Linked DNA regions of Homo sapiens. The protein of the gene in region 2 purifies or fractionates together with the protein of the main gene of each other region. This does not show direct contact. Each region holds a gene or a part of one and is shown on either strand. Other genes may lie near its edges.

Evidence for each region. The genes of interacting proteins can lie anywhere in the genome.
Region 1: the proteins of EHD3 (region 2) and FERMT2 purify together in Homo sapiens (affinity purification with mass spectrometry; one large-scale study listed by BioGRID and IntAct). This does not show direct contact.

The regions. Positions count from the first base shown.
Region 1 is NC_000014.9:52,881,441-52,885,092, forward strand, and holds part of FERMT2 (fermitin family homolog 2), read right to left. Parts: intron 389-3,652; coding exon of another isoform or gene 356-388; intron 30-355; coding exon 1-29. UniProt on the Homo sapiens protein: Scaffolding protein that enhances integrin activation mediated by TLN1 and/or TLN2, but activates integrins only weakly by itself. Binds to membranes enriched in phosphoinositides.
Region 2 is NC_000002.12:31,232,572-31,236,323, reverse strand, and holds the start of EHD3 (EH domain-containing protein 3), read right to left. Parts: upstream 2,173-3,752; 5' UTR 1,703-2,172; coding exon 1,476-1,702; intron 1-1,475. UniProt on the Homo sapiens protein: ATP- and membrane-binding protein that controls membrane reorganization/tubulation upon ATP hydrolysis. In vitro causes tubulation of endocytic membranes. Binding to phosphatidic acid induces its membrane tubulation activity.

The sequences.
Region 1 (3,652 bases), on a different chromosome or scaffold from region 2:
ATACAGTCCTGGGCTTGAATATATACTTCCTAATAAGTAACATGAAAAACAGGTAGTAAGTATGCAGTACAGCATCTTATTTTTCAATAATAACACATATTATGATATAAAGCACATTGTGAAACAAAAGTTTTATTCTGAAAGGAAAGCTTAGTATATTATTTTACCTGTTATGAAAACATGTGTAATTAATTCTCCTTGTATAACATTAAAACACGTAATAAAGCCTTAAGAATATAATTAAGTTGGCAGAAATTCTGGGGAAAAAAAATCAGTTCAAGAGAATTAGAAAATAAGGATATAGCTGAAGCAGACAGACCAACACTTTTTGTCTTTAAATTGTGGCAAGGCTCACCTTTCAGAGGGCCAATGTAAAGAACATCAGTGCCTATAGGAAAGGAAAGAAAGGAATTCAGAAGGTAAAGGAAAGGCCACAACAGAGGACAGAAACAAAAGAATGAAAAGAAAATGAGAAAAAGAAAAAACAGATTTTCCCTAATTGTGAATCATAAACTGAAGTACACATTTCAAGTGGATTTCAGAGTAAAGAACCTTAGAAGCTACAACCTAAGTAAAACGGTTTTTTTTGTTCAATTTAAAAGAATGAAGTTGTGCTGTAGTCAAGTATATAGTGACAAATATGTCTACAACTTTTACCACCATTTGAAATCCATACAATTTGAAGGTAACACAATAGAACTGAATTCATATAGATTAAGAATAATTTTATAGTAAAGTCTTCTCAGTGAATAAACAGGTTTCAACAATTTTACAAATAAAGTTTTTTTTAATTTTTAAGTTCTGGGGTACAACAAATAAAGTATTAATGTAAAAGGGGAGATAAAAGTCTGCCCTAGAAAGAGTCTAAACAGAGATATATTTAATAGTCAAATCTCAAAAGGAAGGGATATTGCCTTATTTATCTTCTGATTTCTTAGTATTAGGGCTAGACATATAGTAGAGGTTACGTAAATAACAATTTGTTACATTAGTCAACAGATGGTATGTGCTCCTTTATTTAAACTACAAAAATTAAGGAGATGAATTTAAGGCATCTAAAAATGTTCAGAATGACATTAAGGACAAGCAGCTCCCCCAAGTCCTAGCTCTGTTAAATTATATTTTGTCCTGTTGTCATAATTTTTCAAAAGAAAATGTGCAATGGGCATAACACTGTTAATGTAAAGAAAATGGCTTTTCCATTCCCTAAATTTAGGGTTAAGCTTAGAAATCCATCTCCTTTCCTACTATTTTTAACTCTTCTCCCCATGCAATGATAGAAACACTGCCTGTGAAAAAGTGGTGCTAATGCTAGAGATTTTTGTAGCTGTCATGACCTAGTCTAGGAAGCAAAGTTAAAAAAAAAAAGTTTTTACTGAAAATATGTAATCTCTTGCTGGACACAGGATATTTGATTTTATGTCCCTGACATGTGTTCTTCCAATGTTAGTACTAAAAAAAACCTGTAAAATCTAGGCCAGGTGTGGTGGCTCACTCCTGTAATCTCAGCACTTTGGGAGGCTGAGGCGGTTGAATCACTTGAGGTCAGGAATTCGAGATCAGCCTGGCCAACATGGAGAAACCCTGTCTCTACTAAAAACACAAAAATTTGCCAGGAGTGGTGGTGCACGCTATTCGGGAGGCGAAGGCTGCAGTGAGCCAAGATTGCATCAATGCACTCCAGTCTAGGCAACAAAGCAAGACTCTATCTCAAACAAACAAACAAACAAACAAACAAAAAACCCTCTAAAATCCGAACACTGTTAATCCTAAAACACAAAGCAAAGTTGTGAACTCTTTATCAGCATTTAAAGAATACTGGGATCGTTAGTCCTGGGGCTTTAAAAGCTAGATCCTTAAACTAGACAGGTATTTTTCAAACTTAAAATTGTGTGACACCTTTTGAAAGGACTAATTGGGCACCCCACACTTATTAAATGTGCTGAACACATTACTCCAACTCAGTTGGGCAAAGGGTATTTCTGCTACAGAGTGTGCATGTAGATAAAGTGTGAAAAAACATTAACTTCTAGGCAAAGTCTTGTTTCTTTCAAAGATCTATTAAATAAATCTGTTACGAAGAATGTCAGTATACTGAAAATGTGCACCTGGTGAGATTATAATTTCTATCCAAAACTGAGTCAAGTTAGAATGGACAATTTGCTTTATAAAGTTTCTAATATAGAAAAGATACTCCCCCTAAATCACTGATATGGTTTGGATCAGTGTCCCTGCCCAAATCGCATGTCTAATTGTAATCCCCAATGTTGGAGGAGGGGCCTGGTGGGAGGTGACTGAATCACAGGGGTGGAGTTCTCATAATGGTTTTGCACCATCCCCGCTTGGTACTGTATAGTCAGTGACTTCTCATGAGATCTGGTTGTTTAAAGTGTGTGGCACCTCCCCACTCCCACCCCTACCTCCTGTTCCAGCCACGTGAAGTGCTGGCTCCTCCTCCGCCTTCCGCTGTAATTGTAAGTTTCCTGAGGCCTCCCCAGGAGCTGATGCCACCATGCTTCCTGGACAGCCTGCAGAACTGTGAGCCAATTAAACCTCTTTTCTCCTAAGTTACCAAGTCTCAGGTATTTCCTTATAGCAATTCAAGAATGAACAAATACAATCACACATTTAATAGAATCAGCCACCCACCCAAATCTGCGTTTCAACTTCCTATAGTTTGTATCTTCTTCAATTCATACTTAATCACTTCGTTGTTCTTATTTGTTCTGTAGGCACTATGTGATAATAAACTCACTTAGCGTTCACAACAACTCTATTATTCTCACTTCAGAGGAGCAAACTGAGGCAAAGCAAGGTTAAATAACTTGTCCAAGGTCAAGAGCAAGTAAGCTGCAGCCAAGCTATAAATCGGCCAGTCTGGGCAGGCGCGGTGGCTCAAGCCTGTAATCCCAGCACTTTGGGAAGCCAAGGTGGGCAGACTGCCTGAGGTCAGGAGTTCGAGACCAGCCTGGCCAACATGGTGAAACCCCGCCTCTACTAAAAATACAAAAAATTAGCCAGGCATGGTGGCAGCCTGCCTGTAATCCCAGCTACTTGGGAGGCTGAGGCAGGAGAATCACTTGAACCCGGGAGGCGGAGTTTGCAGTGAGAGACTGCACCATTGCACTCCAGCCTGGGTGACAAGAGCGAAACTCCGTCTCAAAAACAACAAACAAAAAAACCCCAGCCAGTCTGGCTGTAGGGCTACACACTGCCTCCATGTACTATAACTTACGTAAGCCATTCCCAATTGGTGTGCACCTATTTTTTAAAATTCTGTTACTGTAAGGTGGCTCATGCCTGTAATCCCAGCACTTTGGGAGGCCGAGGCAGGCAGATCACCTGAGGTCAGGAGTTCAAGACCAGCCTGGCCAACATGGTGAAACTCTGTCTCCACTAAAAATATAAAAAATAAGCTGGGTGTGGTGGTGCACGCCTATAGTCCCAGCTACTTGGGAGGCTGAGACAGGAGAATCGCTTGAACCGAGGAGGTGGAGGTTGCAGTGAGCAGAGATTGTGCCACTGCAGTCCAGCCTGGGTGACAGAATGAGACTGTGTTTCGAAAAATAAAAATAAAAAAATAAAATTCTGGCCAGGTGCGGTGGCTCATGCCTGTAATGCCCGCACTTTGAGAGGCCAAGGCGGGTGGATC
Region 2 (3,752 bases):
TCAATATAAAACATACAAGAGCCAACAGGCCCATCACCTCCCAAACTCCTTCAGAAATCACTTGGCCTCTTAAAGCTGCTGAGCCCTAGGCTGTGCACTCCACAAGGACAAACTCAATGTGGTGTTGTGTTTAGACATGACCTATTAGCATGGTGCTACTTCCAGAAGGCTGGCGTTACAAGGTGGATGTTAGAGAAAATTAGTACCTAGAAAATTAGTAACTAGACTGTTAACTTTTCTGCACTCCTCACCAAACAAAGCACAGCATTTCACATGCTGTGGATGCTCAAACAGCCAAGGAATAGGAATAAGGGTACCCCTGCTTTCCAAACCCTCTGCAGGAGATGAGCACACTTGACTTTGGGGGGCCACCAAACTCCATTCTCAAGCTGTGGGAGCCTGAGTCTTAAGACAGAGGGCCACAGCATTCTCAACAATTTGGAATGGCTATAAAAGGGGCCAAGAAAATGGCTGGCCTTGAAGTTGGGAAGATTGAGGACTGGAGTGAAGCCTGTTCTCTAAAGATAAGAAGGGCCTCTGGTGGACTTCTCTGAATGCAGGGTGAACAAATTGACTTCTTGAGCCTCCCTCCAGCCCAAGGATTCTGTAATTGAAGGGAATGGATGACTCATTCTCAGAGTTACAGGCGTTTAGCCAAGCATCTCCTCACATGCATCTAGGACTTAACATCCCAGGTCTGCTGCCCACTCTTTAGATGGCTCTGCACAATTCATTTAACTTCTCTGCGCCTCGGTTATCTCACCTGCAAACTCAGCAACTGGATGAGACAATGCCAATATCCCTTCCATCTCTAAGCGTCTTTAATATTATTATTAAGCCATTAAGATCAAATAAGAGAAAGGGGAAAAAAAAAGCATTCTGCTTCTGGACTCAGCTTCTGTTGAGTCTCCAAGATATATACACAGGAGCTCTGCTTTAGAGAAGGAAATGATAAAAGGAGGACAAGTAGCATCCCCAGGCCACCTCCGTTCCCAGGCCCGCACCCATCAGAACTCAGCTGCAACTGTGAGGCCCCCATGTGAGTGCCAAGCCCCTTGAAAAACAAGGGAAGAGGTTTTGCCCGTGAATGATGTGTTGCTAAAAAGTGAAGACGTAAGACATCCCCACCAACATAAGGCGCTCCAGAGACCAGGAGCTCTTCCATTGTGCCTCCTGGGCCTCGGTTTCATCATCCATAAGATGGGGAGACTGGGAATGGCTTTACACTTGAATACTTCAGGTTGACCACCACAGCCAAGGGCCAAGTAGAGTGGACAGGTATTGGGTAGGATGGGAAGGGGGACCAGCAAAAATTGTGGGGTAAGATTTTGACGCCTGCACAAACACAGATCTCTTCAGAGCCCTCAACTGAAGGCTTCCCATTGGTCCCCTGTCTGGGATGGAGCACCAGGAGTGACCGGAGGGACTAGGCGCTGGGCTCCGGGGTGGGCTGCCAGGACCCTGGGCCGGCTCACCTGATGAAGGTGGTCTTCCCAGTGGAGTACTGGCCCACCAGCAGAACCATGGGCTTGTTGTCGAAGTCGGCATCCTCCAGGGCGGGCGAGTGGAACTCGTGGAAGCGGTAATGCTCTTCCAAGGGCAGCAGCTTGCTCTTGTAGAGTTTCTTGAGCCCCTCACTCACCGTCTGGAAAACCTCGGGGTCCTTCCTCCGGCGGTCGTCCGTACCCAGCCAGCTGAACATCGCGGCCGCCGCTCGCCCCCGGCACGCAGCCCCAGGGGAAGACTCCTCCTCAGGGGAAGATGTCCCGTAGGACCGGTCCGCCGGGCTCCGAGCCGCGCCGCCGCCTCACCCAAGCGCGGGGCTCAGCCGCACCATGGCCCGGGCACGCGGCTAGGAGGGCCGGGAGCGCACTCTCCCTGCTCCTGGGACCAAGCCCAGCCGCTGCTGCATCCAGCAGCCCAGGCCGGAGGGAGGATAAATAATCTGGGCTTGAGGAGGAGGGGTGAAATCTTGGCAATTAAAGTTGAACCTGCAAGGAAACTGCCAGATGCCGGGGTCCCAAGCCGGGGTCCCCGATCGGCCCCCAGCCCTCGCCTGCTCTGCCCTGCGTGCAGCAAGGGATGCTTCGGCTCCGCTCCTGCCGGACCGAGGCGGCTCAGGGGAGACGGCGACGCTGCCCAGCCCGCGGACAGCTCTGCATCCGCAGCAGCATCCTGCAGCCCCAGGCGGTGGTTTAAATGCCAGCTGGGCAGGAAGCCGGCGCGCAGAGGAAGTCCCCTAGTACTGGCAAGGCAGGGCCGGCCCCACGGTTGCGGCGACGGGAAGCCGCGCAGGGCGCCGCCATGTTTGTGGGCAGGCGCTCAGCTCTAGACCTGCGGCCGCGCGGGGAGAGGGATGCTGACCCAGTCCAGTGGGAGAGTGCCGGTGTCTCAGTCTCCGCCTCTGGGGCTTCGATTTGGGAACAGCGCCCTCTCAGGGACGGCTGCGAGGACAGAGTTGACCTATTCATCACACTCCCTGCTTTGAATCGCCTCTCCTTCAGTTGCTGAGGTCAATTCCCTAGGAAAACAGGTACTCTAGTATTGGGGGATTTTTTTTTTTTTTGGCATAGAAAGGGGATCCACTATCAGGTTACACAAAATAACCAAAACTGTCACTACCCAAACTTTTAGCTAGGCTTAGGGTGAAGTCAAAATCGTTCCCATTTACTTATTCATTCATTCCAGCAAAACAAAACAAGCCAAGAAGCAAAATCCCTGCAAGTATTGGGAATTTATTATGGGGCAGTTACAATTTTGGTGACTGTGGATACAGAGATGAGTGCTGAACAGACTCTCCCTTCCAGGAACTCCAGTGAAGGCAGGCTTTAAAGAGGAGGCATGAGCAGAGGGTCATGGGAATACAGGGAGGAGTCACTCCTTTTGTGTGGCTAATTTGAGGAAGGCTTCATGGAAAGCATGACTGTAAGCTGGATCCTAAATGATGAATTGACATCCATTGTTCTAGGAGCGTAAGGAGTATTTGCAAAGGCTTGAGGAACTTGGTGTGTCCAAGGCAGAGTAAACAGTTTGGCATAGCTGGAGTGTAGGGTTTAGGAAGGTGAAAGAGAGTGAGGGAGGCCAAGCATGAAAGGCTTTGCCAGAGATGGGGAACCAATAGCAATGCTATTACTAATCATTGTTACATTAACAAAATGCTCAGCATGTGCAGGGGCCTGGGCTAAGTTCTCAGTGAACATTGCTTTATTTAACCTTCATGGCAGATCATATTATCTCCAGCATCATACTAAGGAGAGTGAGTGGGAACACTGTCCAGGTGTAGGCAAAAGCAGTGCATCGTGTGTAGAGAATTTAAACCCAATAATAAACTTGCTGAAAGTTGATGTGCTTTGTATTGGCACCATTCTAAACAGTGTAGTGATAAAACACTCCTCCCTGCCCAGGCTAATGACTCCCACTACCCTCCCTTCCACAGATGAAGAAGGAGTAGGCTATGGACCAGGCAGGAACTGGAATGCCAAGAGCAGTGTTGGAGGGGCAAAAGAGGTTGGGGGTTGATATGGTTTTGCTTTGTGTCCCCGCATAAATCTCATCTCTAATTGTAATCCCCATAATCCCCATGCGTTTAGGGAGAGAGCTGGTGGGAGGAGATTGGATCATAGGGACAGTTTCATTCATGCTGTTCTCATGATAGTGAGTGAGTTCTCGTGAGAGCTGATGGTTTTATAAGGGGCTCTTCCCACTTGGTTCCTCATACTTCTCTCTCCTGCCGCCTTATGAAGGACGTGTTT